Homo sapiens: one gene and its partners. The protein of the gene in region 4 interacts with the protein of the main gene of each other region in a pairwise test. Each region holds a gene or a part of one and is shown on either strand. Other genes may lie near its edges.

The links. Proteins that work in one complex are often made in the same cells at the same time.
Region 1: the proteins of OIP5 (region 4) and SPATA24 interact in binary tests that used the Homo sapiens proteins (3 or more experiments, as listed by UniProt).
Region 2: the proteins of OIP5 (region 4) and KRT83 interact in binary tests that used the Homo sapiens proteins (3 or more experiments, as listed by UniProt).
Region 3: the proteins of OIP5 (region 4) and KRT86 interact in binary tests that used the Homo sapiens proteins (3 or more experiments, as listed by UniProt).

The regions. Positions count from the first base shown.
Region 1 is NC_000005.10:139,398,679-139,401,089, forward strand, and holds part of SPATA24 (spermatogenesis-associated protein 24), read right to left. Parts: intron 1-2,411. UniProt on the Homo sapiens protein: Binds DNA with high affinity but does not bind to TATA boxes. Synergises with GMNN and TBP in activation of TATA box-containing promoters and with GMNN and TBPL1 in activation of the NF1 TATA-less promoter.
Region 2 is NC_000012.12:52,318,599-52,322,809, forward strand, and holds the start of KRT83 (keratin, type II cuticular Hb3), read right to left. Parts: upstream 2,801-4,211; 5' UTR 2,738-2,800; coding exon 2,354-2,737; intron 767-2,353; coding exon 558-766; intron 1-557.
Region 3 is NC_000012.12:52,302,145-52,305,644, reverse strand, and holds part of KRT86 (keratin, type II cuticular Hb6), read right to left. Parts: coding exon 3,360-3,500; intron 2,546-3,359; coding exon 2,337-2,545; intron 1,535-2,336; coding exon 1,474-1,534; intron 714-1,473; coding exon 618-713; intron 406-617; coding exon 241-405; intron 1-240.
Region 4 is NC_000015.10:41,312,183-41,315,591, forward strand, and holds part of OIP5 (protein Mis18-beta), read right to left. Parts: intron 1,173-3,409; coding exon 1,091-1,172; exon of another isoform or gene 1-1,090. UniProt on the Homo sapiens protein: Required for recruitment of CENPA to centromeres and normal chromosome segregation during mitosis.

The sequences.
Region 1 (2,411 bases), on a different chromosome or scaffold from region 4:
CACCTTGGAAAATTCTGATTCCTACAGAAAGAAAATCCTACTGTCTTCAAAGGTTGGACAAGGGGCCAGGCACAGTGGCTCATGCCTGTAATCCCAGCACTTTGGGAGGCCAAGGCGGGTGGATCACCTGAGGTCAGGAGTTTGAGACCAGCCTGGCCAACATGGTAAAACCCCGTCTCTACTAAAAATACAAAAATTAGCTGGGTGTGGTGGCACATGCCTGTAATCCCAGCTACTTTGGAGGCTGTGGCAGAAGAATTGCTTGAACCCAGGAGACGGAGGTTGCAGTGAGCCGAGATCGTGCCATTGCACTTCAGCCTGGGTGACAGAGCGAGATTCCGCTTCAAAAAAAAAAAAGGCCAGGCGTGGTGGCTCACGCCTGTAATCCCAGCACTTTGGGAGGCCAAGGTGGGTGGATCACAAAGTCAGGAGATGGAGACCATCCTGGCTAACACGGTGAAACCTTGTCTCTACTAAAAATACAAAAAATTAGCCAGGTGTGGTGGCGGGCACCTATAGTCCCAGCTACCTGGGAGGCTGAGGCAGGAAGATGACGTGAACCTGAGAGGCGGAGCTTGCAGTGAGCCGAGATCTCGACACCGCACTCCAGCCTGGGCGGCAGAGCAAGACTCCATCTCAAAAAAAAAAAAAAAAAGGTTGGACAAGAATTAACTAGAACACAAACTCTGAAAATACAGAAATGTCTAAGCATTTAAGATTTCAAAAGAGAAGACCTGGTAAAAAGTGAAGGCACAGCATGGAAAAGAGGAGACAGGTGAAGGGAGAGAATGAAGACATGAGTTCACCGGGTCATGGGACGAGGACTGTTGAACCTCCTTCCCAGGCGTCCAGCTAAGTGGAATTAATTACTTGTGAAGTTCGTTTGGGAAAAAGAATTAGAAATTTGTGTGACTCTTTGAAAATAAAAGCCTGTGGCACCCGATGGTGAGAGAATGGTTAGAAAATCCCTTTGAGAGTAAAGAACTATGTAAGTGTAAAAACCAAACTGAAACCACACAAGGGGAGTTTGTAGGGGTGGGAGGCACTGGCCAGGGTGAGGTTCACATCACCAGACTGGCTCAGGAGGGCTTGTGTCCCACAGGAGGGGTTTAGAATATTCTGGGGGAGGCAGCCAGGACCTGTCCCCATGACACACACACCTTCCAACAAGCAGATCCAAAGCCCCGTGAGCTTGACTGATCTCTGTTGGAAGGAAATGACCTAGGGGAAGGAGGTCTCTGGCCCTACCAGGAAAGAACCCCAGGTTCTTTTTTGGGAAGTAAGGGGATGCCCAGGGAGAGGGCAAGACTGAGGGGACCAATGGTCTCGAGCATGGGGGCAGTGACTGCCTGTTGCGCCCTGCCATGGCAGGAGCCAGTGACCAAACTACTATGAGACCTGTCAGCCTGCCTGGCCAGATCAAGATGTCAGCCTGCTGCCATCTTCCCAGTGAGAGCACTCACTAGGGGAGAGAGAAGGCTGAACAGGTGAAAGGCAGGGTACTCAAGGCTCCACATGGGAGCCCCATCAGTAAGGACCTTGAACCTCTTGCGCTTGGGCTCTGGCCTACTGGAGATCTGCTGCAGTGAACAAAGCAGATGTTGTGCCTGGAATTCATACCTACTTTTTTTTTTTTTTTTTTTTTGAGACAGAGTTTCACTTTTGTTGCCCAGGCTGGAGCGCAATGGCATGATCCTGGCTCACTGCAACCTCTGCCTCCTGGGTTCAAGCAGTTCTCCTGTCTCAGCCTCCTGAGTAGCTGGTATTACAGGTGCCCGCCACTATGCCCGGGTAATTTTTGGTATTTTTAGTAGAGATGGGGTTTCACCATGTTGGCCAGGCTGGTCTCGAACTCCTGACCTCATGTGATCCGCTTGCCTTGGCCTCCCAAAGTGTTGGGATTACAGGCATGAGCCACCGCGCCCAGCCCATACTTAAACTGGGTAAGGGGAGTTTAGCATTCCGGGAAATGAAAGGGGCTCCTGAGGTGTACGGGCATGTGTAGCTGACTCAGAAGGTGCCCCACAACTTATGGCACCAACTGAGCCAAAAAAGTGGCCCCCAGGCATCTGCACAGAGCAGAGTTGAAAACTGGCAGCCCACAGATATTTTACTTGGCCTACACGATAGTTTTAAAATTTCAAAATCAACTGCCAACACTAAAAAGTCAGAAAAGCTTCCATTAAAACTTGGTTTTGGCTGGGTGCGGTGGCTCACGCCTATAATCCCAGCACTTTGGGAGGCTGAGGTGGGGGATCACCTGAGGTCAGGAGTTCGAGACCAGCCTGACCAACATGGTGAAACCTCATCTCTACTAAAAATACAAAAATTAGCCGGGCATGGTGGTGCACACCTGTAATCCTAGCTACTCGGGAGGCTGCGGCAGAAGAATCACTTGAACCCAGGAGATG
Region 2 (4,211 bases), on a different chromosome or scaffold from region 4:
AGAATGTTACTGAAGGAAGCTGGCCACCCCTCAAAAGCAGATTCCTTCTGAGGATCCAGTGCGTATTCTTCATACCATATATCACACTTTGTAGCTGAAGGGCTAGATCTGTGGCTCTGTCATGACTGCCTTCCAGCAGACTGCAGGCTCCACAAGAACCCGCACTGTGTGGCTTGCGTGGCCCTGTGTCACTATCACCAGCACAGCGTGCTGCATGTGGTAGGTGATCAGATAGTGTTAGCTGAGTGAGAGAGCAAACTTAGGAAGACACATGTCCAGGACTTTGAGATCTGGTCTCAAAGGGACCCAGGAATACAAGTTTTTGTGAAAAATGGATGGAGAAAGGGAGAGAGCATTGTTTCCCTGATCTGCTGGTGGAAAGACAAGCTGAGCCTCCATCCCCCACACCCAAGGGACCCCTGTGTCTCAAACAGGGGGTACAGGTTCTTCTCCACTCTCAGGCAGAGATGCCAGCTGCAGACTGGATACTCCTCCGGGCTCAGGGAGCTGCCACCATGCTATTTCCTGTGCCCAGAACCCCTCCTGCCCACACTCACTTCTTCTTGTAGCCCTCCAGCACCTCCTGCACGTGGTTGAGCTCTGAGGCCAGCCTCCCACTGTCAGCCTCCACGCACTCGGCCTCCCGCCGCAGAGTCTCGATGTAGCCAGCAAACAGGGGCTCCAGGTTACTCTGGCAGCACTCGCGGTTTTGGTAGAACTGCAGCTTTGTCTCCAGCAGCTTGTTCTGCTGCTCCAGGAAGCGCACCTGCCACCCAGAGGCAGAGCCTAAGAACCTCTTCTTGCAGCATCAGAGGACAAAGAGGGGTTCCCAGCACGAGGGCCTGAAAGCCCCCAACTCTCTGACCCAGAGTCTTCCCTGGAAGGCGTTATGTCATCTCTCTCAAAAATGCCACCAGGGCTTAACCAGTTCACCACCTGGAAGTTCTTCCTGGGAGTTAATCTCTTCTAAGTCAGTTTACCTGGTGTCATGGAAAATGCTTGAAGAGTCCAGATTCTGCTGCCACTTGTTAACATTGTGCCCTTGGATAAAGCACTCACCTCCTCTGTAGAGTGGCGAGGTTAAAGCTCACCTTACTATGAGGATTAAAAGAACCCTTTAACAGAAAGGCACCCCACACTGAACAGCTACTGCTGTTCAATCACACCAAGCCAGGTGGACCTTTTTAGAAAGGCAAACTGTAAAAGTTGAAAAATAAAGCATGTGCCAATTATTCAAACCCTACAACAACAATGCAATTAGAATAATAGTCACCTGCAATATGAGAGTAGGAATGTCCTGTGCTCCAACCCCCTTATTTTACTGATGAGGCCAAGGAGGTTCCCTGACTGCCTGAGAGCTCACAGTGGCAGAGAAGAGCTCAAACTCCGATCTTCTGCGCTGCAGGGGGTGTCTTCTCTCCCTTTGACAATTATAGGAACATCCCTCTCCCAGCGATGAGGTTGGCCCACTACTCCACTCAGCTTCTTTTGTCTAATAACTTGGCCACACCCTTGGTAGGTCCTATCTTATGCTATCCTTGGTCTCTCATGCTATTAGAAATTCCACATTTTTTTTTCCCGATCCTTTCTGGTGGGCATCTCTCTAGTGTGACTCCTCTCTTGAGGTTTTGGCTCTGGAGGGCTCTTTCCAACCCCAGAACATGTTCCTAGTCAGAGCCTTTTCTCCCAGTCTCTCACATCACTGCCACATGGTGGTTGCCTGGATTCAGTGGAGAAGGTGGCTGCAAACTCTAGTTGGACACTGACTACACAGATGGTTTCAACCAAACCCAGACTGTGCACTGCCTGCCTCCCCATAAAGCCTGTGAGGATGGGGACCATGACTCTTGCTCACCCCTGGATCCTGAGCCCCAGGAACAGTGGCTTGGACAAAATACTCTAGACCCTGCTCAGTGGCCAAATCACTGTGTGGTATAGAAAGAGTTCTGTGCCATCCACGAGACCCACTTCCAGACAGTTTTCCAGCACCACACTTATTAGCCCTGCCTTGATGGAGACAGCATCTCCTTGGCATTTAAGCAGTTATTTGGCTTCAAATGCCCTGAGCGCCCACACAGTGGTCCTTTGCTCACTAGGTGATATTATCACTCAGTGTGGAAGGCTCTGCCCCTCGTTCTGCTTTTGTGTTTTCAGTTAATCTCCCCCATCAGTCTGGTAGCTCCCGGTCCCATTTTTGTCTTTCTGTCTGTGTCCTAGAAGTATGACTACCTTTCCCTTTGGCCTGGGAACTTCTGTGGGCAAGTTCTTGCCTTTGACTTCCCTGTCAGTGCCCAGCCTGAGTTCTGAACATGAGTAGGGGTTCAGGAAGGGTGTGATCCAGGACGACACCCACCTTGTCGATGAAGGCCGCGAATCTGCTGTTGAGGGACTTGATCTGCTCCTTCTCCTCCTGCTTCACGCACTGCGCGTTGGGGTCTATCTCCAGGTTGAGGGGCGTGAGGAGGCTCTCGTTGACCGACACGGTGGTGATGCATGGGGGGCTGGGTCCGCACACGCCCCCGGAGCGGTAGCCGAAGCTGCGTCCGCAGGAGCCGGCGCGGAAGCCCCCGCACACGCTGTGGCTGCCAAAGCCCCCGGTGAGGCCGCGGTAGCAGGAGATGCCGCGGTAGGGGGCGGCGGTGATGCAGCAGCGGCTTGGCCGGGGCCCGCAGGCAGAGACACAGCTGAAGTTTCCAGGGCGGAACCCACAGCCTATGGAGTTGAAGCCACAGGTCATGACGGAGGTTAGGAGGTGTCTGAACAGTGGAGTAGATGGCAGAGGATGGAACCAAGGGCCTGTGCTCCCTGGCTGATGGCAGGCCCTTTTATGTGCCAGGGGCAGCTGGTGTTAAAAGAGGGAGCAAAGAGACAATAGCTGAATTTTATTGGCTTGGCATCACCCTGGCCTCTTAAGCTAGAACCCTGCTTGCCTCTTCAGTGTGGCTGCATCAACAATCCCTGGCCACGGGCCCTGTTTCATCTTCAAAGCCCTTTATAAGCTTCCTCCTTGCTCCTGCCCCTCCCACTGGCACTGCTGTGGAGCGGGGAGAGGGGTTCCTGAAAGCATTAGTTGCATTCTGCGGTCCAAGCGAGGGGAATGGGTGCAGTGACCTGGGGTAAAGCCTGCTCTCTGAACCCTGTTCTGAAAGGGGCAGAGCTAGGCTATGGGCCCTGGACCCATGGCCAAGCCCTGGGGTGGAGTGGCTGGCCTGTCCCAAGGAGGGGGCTGCCTCTGAGACAACCTCTTGCTGTAGGCTTTCCTGTCTTTTTCTCAAAGGCGGGTTCCTTTCCTCATTGTCAAGATTGGCCGCTCCTATCCTATTCCTGCTCAGAGCCTGGTCAAGGATGGGAGTGGGGGTAGAGATTTGGGGTGGGAGGAGGGCATGTTCTTTGCACTTTGGGTATTCCTAGTGCAGGGACACCATCTGGGACATGGAAGAAACTGATTCAGAGAGTTCAGGACAGTGCCAGGGCTATGCTTCAGAGTTCCAGGTGTCATTGCTGATGGGATCAGGAGCGGGGAGTGTGGAATACCTCAGAGCTCCAGGGACTCATGGAGGAGAGTGGGGACCTGGGCTTGAGGAGGATTGGGGTGGGGTAGTACAGGATTGAGAGATGACCAGAAAAGAGTCTGGCTCTGATTTGCAGACTAGACTATGTGTATTCATTTATTCATTTATTCATTTATTCATTTATTCAGGAAATACTTATTTGGTGCCCACCAACTATGCACTAGCCACTGTGCTAGGTTCTGGAAATCCTACAGAGACCTGGGGTGTTTGGAGGTAGCATGCATGTGGGGGAGCCAACATTTGGCTAGGGGGAAAGATGAGAAGCCACAGATGGGGGGAAGGCCCTCACAATGTCCAGGCTGATTGGTGTTCTTTAGGTTCCCAGCAGGGAAGCTCAGTGATGGGGTCTTGGGGTGTATGTACTCACCAGGAAGGAGGGAAGGTGCGGGAGGTGAGGGACATCAGCAGGGTCCTTAAATGAGATCACTCTCTCACCTCAGAGAACACACTGGGTGAGAGAAGGGTGCTAGCTCATGTGGCTGTTCCTAAAGCCAAGCTCTCTTACTTTGGGCCCTTGTTCCTTTGGGTTAGGACAGGCAATGGCTTTGATGGATGGACAGTCGGACCGAGCCAGGAGGTTTGCCTTAACCCGAGGACCTGAGCCCATCAACCCTTCCAAACACACATCTCTGGACTGCT
Region 3 (3,500 bases), on a different chromosome or scaffold from region 4:
CTCATGAGGTTCAGGGTGGGACCTCCCACCCATTCAGGGCATGACAGATGATTTTGCAGGTTGTGCAGTGCTCAGCCTGTGCAACCACACATGGCAGTCCTGCCCTACCACCCCAACATCAGAGTGGCAGCCATCTCTTCTCATCCCTAGTGCATCCCCAGAAAAGGAAGCCTATTTAATAGATAATCTCAAATCCCTCCCACTGCCATGTCTAGCAGGCAGGTGTCCTGTGCCACTCACCTTGCTGCGGTACCAGGACTCGGCCTCAGCCCGGCTACGGGTGACAATGTCATCGTACTGTGCCTTGATCTCGGCAATGATGCAGTCCATGTTCAGGTCCCGGCTGTTGTCCAGCTTGACAACCACGGAGGTGTCTGAGATGTGGGACTGGAGAACGCGGATCTCCTGCAGGAGGTGAGGGCAGTGACTTTAGTTGAGAACACAGCCCCACCCACCATGTCCTGACTCCACCTCCTCAGGCTTTCTCTGGTCCCCAACCCTGCCCCCTCACACAGCCTCAGGGACTGCAACCTCTACCCACATCCTGTCCAACACTCCCACCCCCATCTCTCCTCTCTGCTGGCTGCCAGGTCTCTGCCTGGCCCCTGAGCCCGCACCTCCTCATACAGCCGCCTCAGGAAGTCGATCTCCTGGATCAGGGCCTCCACATTGGCCTCCAGGTCTGATTTGCGGAGGTAGGCGCAGTCCACATCCTGGAAAGGTGGGGAGTGTTGGAGCTCAAGGACCCTGGTGATCCAGCCTCTAGATTCCTCTCTCTTCCCACCCATTCCATGAAGCCTGGGGAAAGGAGTCCCCAGTGTCTCATTCCCATGCCCTCTCCTTCCCTTCTGGCCCTTCCCGGGGTGACCTGGCATCCTCTGCCATTCTGAGGACAAACCCTGTTTGTCTTGGGCACGGCTCACCAGCCTTTCACTGCTCCTTACCCTCTTATCTCTCCTTTCTCCCCTCTCCTGCTCCAGGAAGCCTGCCCAGACTGACCCCCCAGCTCTCACACCCTGACCCTTTCCTGTCCCCCAGCAGTGCTCCAAAAGCCCAAGGGCTACTCCTGGTTCTTCTCCATCCCCCCTTAGAACCTGGGATTGTGTCTCTGCCTCAAGGTCAGACTCCCCAAAATGCTAGACAGACTGCACTGTCTCTCAGCAGAGACATTGTATCTGCTATGGCTCCAGGGGCCTCAGCAATAGACCACAACCTCTGGAACAGAGCAGGACACACAGAGGACAGTGCAGCCATCCCCTTGCCCAAGGTAGGTGCTGGTAGATATTCCCAAGTCATTGCCCTTTGTCAAGGCCCTGGATGCTCAATACAAAGGCCTGCATCTGGGCAGTCCTAGCCTGCTGTGGAAAGGTCATTGTGCCCCACGCTGAGGTTGAGACCCCCTGTGTGTCCCCAGGAAGAATCTGTCATTCTGAGATCCCACAGATCTGTGCTTCTCAATCCTGTGTCACTTGCCTTCTTCAGAGCCACAAACTCGTTCTCAGCTGTTGCTCTCAGAGAAACCTCCTCCTCATACCTGAGACAGAGCAGAGGGAAGAGAGGGGAGGTCAGGGCAGGGCAGGTCTCTGCAGAGCCACCATCACATCACACTTCATCACAGCCATGGGGACAGTACTAGAAACACCTCCACACAGCCCCGGCCTGGCAGCCTAGCTTAGTGCTTTCTAGTTGGATGTGGGATGTGTCTGGGATTCTCTATCCACTTTGAACTGGGGATGGAGAGTGCTCATCTGGGACCTCCCAGTCCTGTTCCCAAAGGGGCTCTGAGGTCCCCCAGGAGGCAAATAGGACTCAGCCCCCAGCCCCATCCTGGGAGTGGACAGCGTGGACTCTCAGGGCCTGTAGCCCTAGCCTCCCCTCACTGGTATCAATCCCAGCTCAGGTATGGGGCCTCCTGGACCCGCAGACCCTCAGGACTTAGAACCTAAGGCAGTGCGACACCCAGAGCCCAAGACCTGTCACTCATGAGAGACCCTGGGCTCACATCTGACAGGTGCTACAAGTATAGGGGCTGAGGGTCAGGAGAGAAGGCCTGGACCCTGCAGAGGCTTCCTCCCCACCCAGCGCAGGGGAGAGCTGCTGGGTGATGTGGTTCAGGGAGAGAAGGCTGAAGTGGGACAGAGACAGGTCATGGGAGTCACAGCCCTCCTCTTACACAGGTGTCTGGGCAAAGATTCCACAAAGGAAAAGACCCCGCCACCCTCGGTCAATCTAGTGGTCATGGCCACTCACCCTACCTGGGAGTTCTTATTGTCTAATCCAGTGTATTTAACCTAAACCCCATTCCTGTGCCCAGCATCCCTCTTGCCCGCACTCACTTCTTCTTGTAGCCCTCCAGCACCTCCTGCACGTGGTTAAGCTCTGAGGCCAGCCTCCCGCTGTCGGCCTCCACGCACTCGGCCTCCCGCCGCAGAGTCTCGATGTAGCCCTCAAACAGGGGCTCCAGGTTGCTCTGGCAACACTCGCGGTTCTGGTAGAACTGCAGCTTTGTCTCCAGCAGTTTGTTCTGCTGCTCCAGGAAGCGCACCTGCCATTCGGTGTGGGAAGGTGGGGCAGATGGTGTCTGGTGCCCCAAAGCCAGCTCTGGGGGCTCGCAGGGGAGGTGCTTTAATGGGAACCCCCAAATCTGGAGCTTATCTGAGATTGAGTAGAGGTGGGCAGTGGGAGACAGACAATTTCTGGATTTCCTGGTCATGATCTGTGTCTAGATTTCCCACTCAGGAGTGGAGCAAGGGCTGGGTGGTGTCAGTGCCTGCTCCCTGGGGAGTTGAGTGACCCCCCCCCCACCCCCCACCCAAGCAGATGAACAGAAGTAGAGGCTCAGTCCCTCACTATGAAACTAGGTGATCAGCAACCCACACAGGCAGAGTACTCAGGTTCAGATCACAGATGAGGTTTCTGGGGATGGTGCCAGGAAGAGGGTGTCACAGGCCATCTGGAAGGGAGCTCAGCTGTCCCAGCCCTTCCCCTGTGTCATCTGGAAGTCAGTGCACCCTACTCTCTCACCCTGGGGCTGCCCAAACCCCTCTGAGTTCAGCAGCAGTGGTCACATGCCCCCCTCCCCCAACTCCCTGATGTCTAGCTTGTGCCCCAGAGCAGCCTGGCCACACTTTTCCTTCACAAGCTCCCTCTATCTGAACTGTCAGCTGAGTCTGCATCTTGAGTGCCTGTGTGTGTGTGTCTGTGCATGTGTCTGTCTGTCTGTGTGTCTGTGTGCCTCGCCCATCAGACTGGGATCTCAGGCAGGCAGAGGTCTTTGTGCCTCTGACTCCATCCTTAGTGCCCGGCCCTGGCTGTGTAGGTGGTGGGGGTTCAGGAAGGGTGTGATCCAGGACACCCACCTTGTCGATGAAGGCCGCGAACCTGCTGTTGAGGGACTTGATCTGCTCCTTCTCCTCCTGCTTCACGCACTGCGCGTTGGGGTCGATCTCCAGGTTGAGGGGCGTGAGGAGGCTCTCGTTGACCGACACGGTGGTGATGCA
Region 4 (3,409 bases):
CAGATTTTCACTCTTGTTGCTCAGGCTAGAGTGCAATGGCATGATCTTGCCTCACAACAACCTCTATCTCGCAGGTTCAAGTGCTTCTCCTGTCTCAACCTCCCAAGTAGCTGGGATTACAGGCATGTGCCACCACGCCCGGCTAATTTTGTATTTTTAGTAGAGACAGGGTTTCTCCATGTTGGTCAGGCTGGTCTCGAACTACTGATCTCGGGTTATCCATCCGCCTCAGCCTCCCAAAGTGCTGGGATTACAGGCGTGAGCCACCACGCCCAGGCAAGAATTATTTTTTTTTGAGACGCAGTCTCGCTCTGTTGCCCAGGCTGGAGTGCAGTGGCGCAGTCTCGGCTCACTGCAACCTCCACCACCTGGGTTCAAGCGATTCTCCTGCCTCAGTCTCCTAAGTAGCTGGGATTACAGGCGCCCACCACCATGACCGGCTAAATTTTTTTTTTTTTTTTTTTTGAGACAGAGTCTTGCTCTGTTGCCCAGGCTGGAATGCAGTGGCGCAATCTCAGCTCACTGCAACCTCCACCTCCCAGTTCAAGCAATTCTCCTGCCTCTGCCTCCCGAGTAGCTGGGACTACAGGCACGTGCCACCACGCCCGGCTAATTTTTTGTATTTGTAATAGAGATGGGGTTTCACTGTGTTAGCCAGGATGGTCTCCATCTCCTGACCTCATGTTCTGCTCGCCTTGGCCTACCAAAGTGCTGGGATTACAGGCGTGAGCCACCACGCCCGGCCAGGAATTCTTAATAACTGTTTCATCACTCTTATGTCTGAGACAGTTGAGCAATTACAAGGTATTTGCAAAGAAGACACCTCTATGGCAAGATGATGATATCCATTCCCAGCACAAAGGAGAATGCAGGAGTGCAGCAGTTGAGCAGCTTTTCCTTTCTTCCTGAACTATACCTTACAGTGTGGTTTTAGTATTTTGTTTTTCATTACAAATTCAATAGGGAAGGTCAAATCAAGTAAAAAGGATTATTGAGCATCATGCCATTTCATCATCCCCAAGTTCATTGGTAGAAGTTATCAAGAGTTGTCTGTATTTTAAAAAAGCATACAACCATCATGAAATTTTACCTCTGCAATCTTTTCTGATAGAGGAACATTTTGAATATCCATCTCTGATGCATTTACTATGGCTTTTGTTTTTAAGAGATAGCTAGATAGGAAAAAAGAAAAATATTAGTGTCATACCATGGTTAAGATTATAAAAGAACCAAACTTACCTTCTAAAGAAAGTATGTGTCAAAAAAAGCCTGGCTTCTTAATGATTTTCATTTCAAGACTCATGATGTTACAGTTGGCCCACCATATCCATGGGTATAGCATCCATGGATTCAAACAACCACAGACTAAAAATATTCAGGAAAAAAAAACTGGATTGTGTCTGTACTGAACAGGTACACTCTTTTTCTTGTCATCATTCCCTTAACATTACAACAACTTTGTAAATTTCCTATGTAAATTTGTAATGTACATAGCATTTACATTACGTTAGCTGTCATAAGTAATCTGGAGATTATTTTAAAGTATAAAATATATACTTTTATACTTTAAAAAGGAGGATATCCAAAAGTAATATGCAAATATTACACCACTTAATATCAGAAACTTGAGTGTCCATGGATTTTGGTATCTGGTGAGGTCCTGGAACCACAGATACTGAAGGATGACTGCATTTTCTTGGAAAAACAAATTCAAAAATAAACAAATTGGAGAGGATCTCTGCCGCATCCCACCAGAGACAAAATTATCTCAGGGTAAATTAAAGACAAAAACCAGGCTCATATGAATAATTACGATGATTATAAGCTTTACACTTCATCAGTAGGATCCTGTAGCACAGTTTGAAAGAAAGTAATCCCAGTATGAGACATAGTGTTGGTCACCTATTCCCAGTAGCTGTTCCTCACTTTTTTTTTTTGAGATGGAGTCTCGCTCTGTTGCCCAGACTAGAGTGCAGTGGTACAATCTCAGCTCACTGCAACCTCTGCCTCCTGGGTTCAAGCGATTCTCCTGCCGCAGCCTCCCGAGTAGCTGGGATTACAGGCTTGCGCCACCACGCCCAGCTAATTTTTGTATTTTTAGTAGAGATGGGGTTTCACCATGTTGGCGAGGCTGGTCTCGAACTCCTGACCTCAGGTGATCCCCCTGCCTGGGCCTCCCAAAGTGCTGGGATTATAGGCGTGAGCCGAGCCCAGCCTTCCTCACTTCTTTATTGCCAACAGAATCCAGATTTTTGCCATGAGCCTACTGTTACATATTTGCTTTCTCAGATGAGGTGATCATGTGACATAGTTCTGGCCAACAAGGGTAAGAAAATGGGATGGGTGTGCTGGCTCACACCTATAATCCCAGCACTTTGGGAGGCTGAGGCAGGCAGATGGCTTGACATCAGAAATTTGAGACCAGCCTGGGCAACATAGCGAAACTCCATCTCTTTTTTTTTTTTTTGAGACAGAGTCTTACTCTGTCACCCAGGCTGAAGTGCAATGGCGAGATCTCGGCTCACTGCAACCTCCGCCTTCCAGGTTCAAGCAATTCTTCTGCCTCAGCCTCCCAAGCAGTTGGGATTACAGGTGCCCACCATCATGCCCAGCTAATTTTTGTATTTTTAGCAGAGACAGGGTTTCACCATATTGGACAGGCTGGTCTTGAATTCCTGACCTCAAGTGATCCGCCTGCCTCAGCCTCCCAAAGTGCTGGGATTACAGCTGTGAGCCAACATGCCTGGCCAGCGAAACCCCATCTCTACAAAAAATACAAAAATTAGCCAGATGTGGTGGCATGCCTGTAGTCCCAGCTACTTGGGAGGCTGAGTTGGGAGGATCACCTGAACCCAAAAGGTTGAGGCTGCAGTGAACCATGATCGCTCCAGCCTGTGTGACAGTGAGACCCTGTCTCAAAAAAAAAAAAAAAAAGAATAAAAAAAAGATTAAGAAAATTTATGCTGGCGGGGCGCAGTGGCTTATGCGTGTAATCCCAGCACTTTGGGAGGCCGAGGCGGGGGGATCACCTGAGGTCAGGAGTTTGAGACCAGCCTGGCAAACATGGTAAAACCCCATTTCTAATAAAAATACAAAAATTAGCAGGCTGTGGTGGAGCGCACCTGTGGTCCCATCTGCTTGGGAGGCAAGGCAGGAGAATCACTTGAACCTGGGAGGCGGAGGTTGCAATGAGCTGAGATCACACCACTGTGTTCCAACTTGGGTGACAGAGCAAGACTCTGTCTCAAAAAAAAAAAAAAAATTTATGCTGATGAAAAGGGGGAATTTTCTTGTGTTCCCATACTCTCCATATCCTTTTCCTTCATGTTTAGGATGCTATCATCAATAGATGTAATGACTGTAATTGCAGCAGCCATCCCGAATCCAAGAGGAAAAGGCCAAAGTTTCT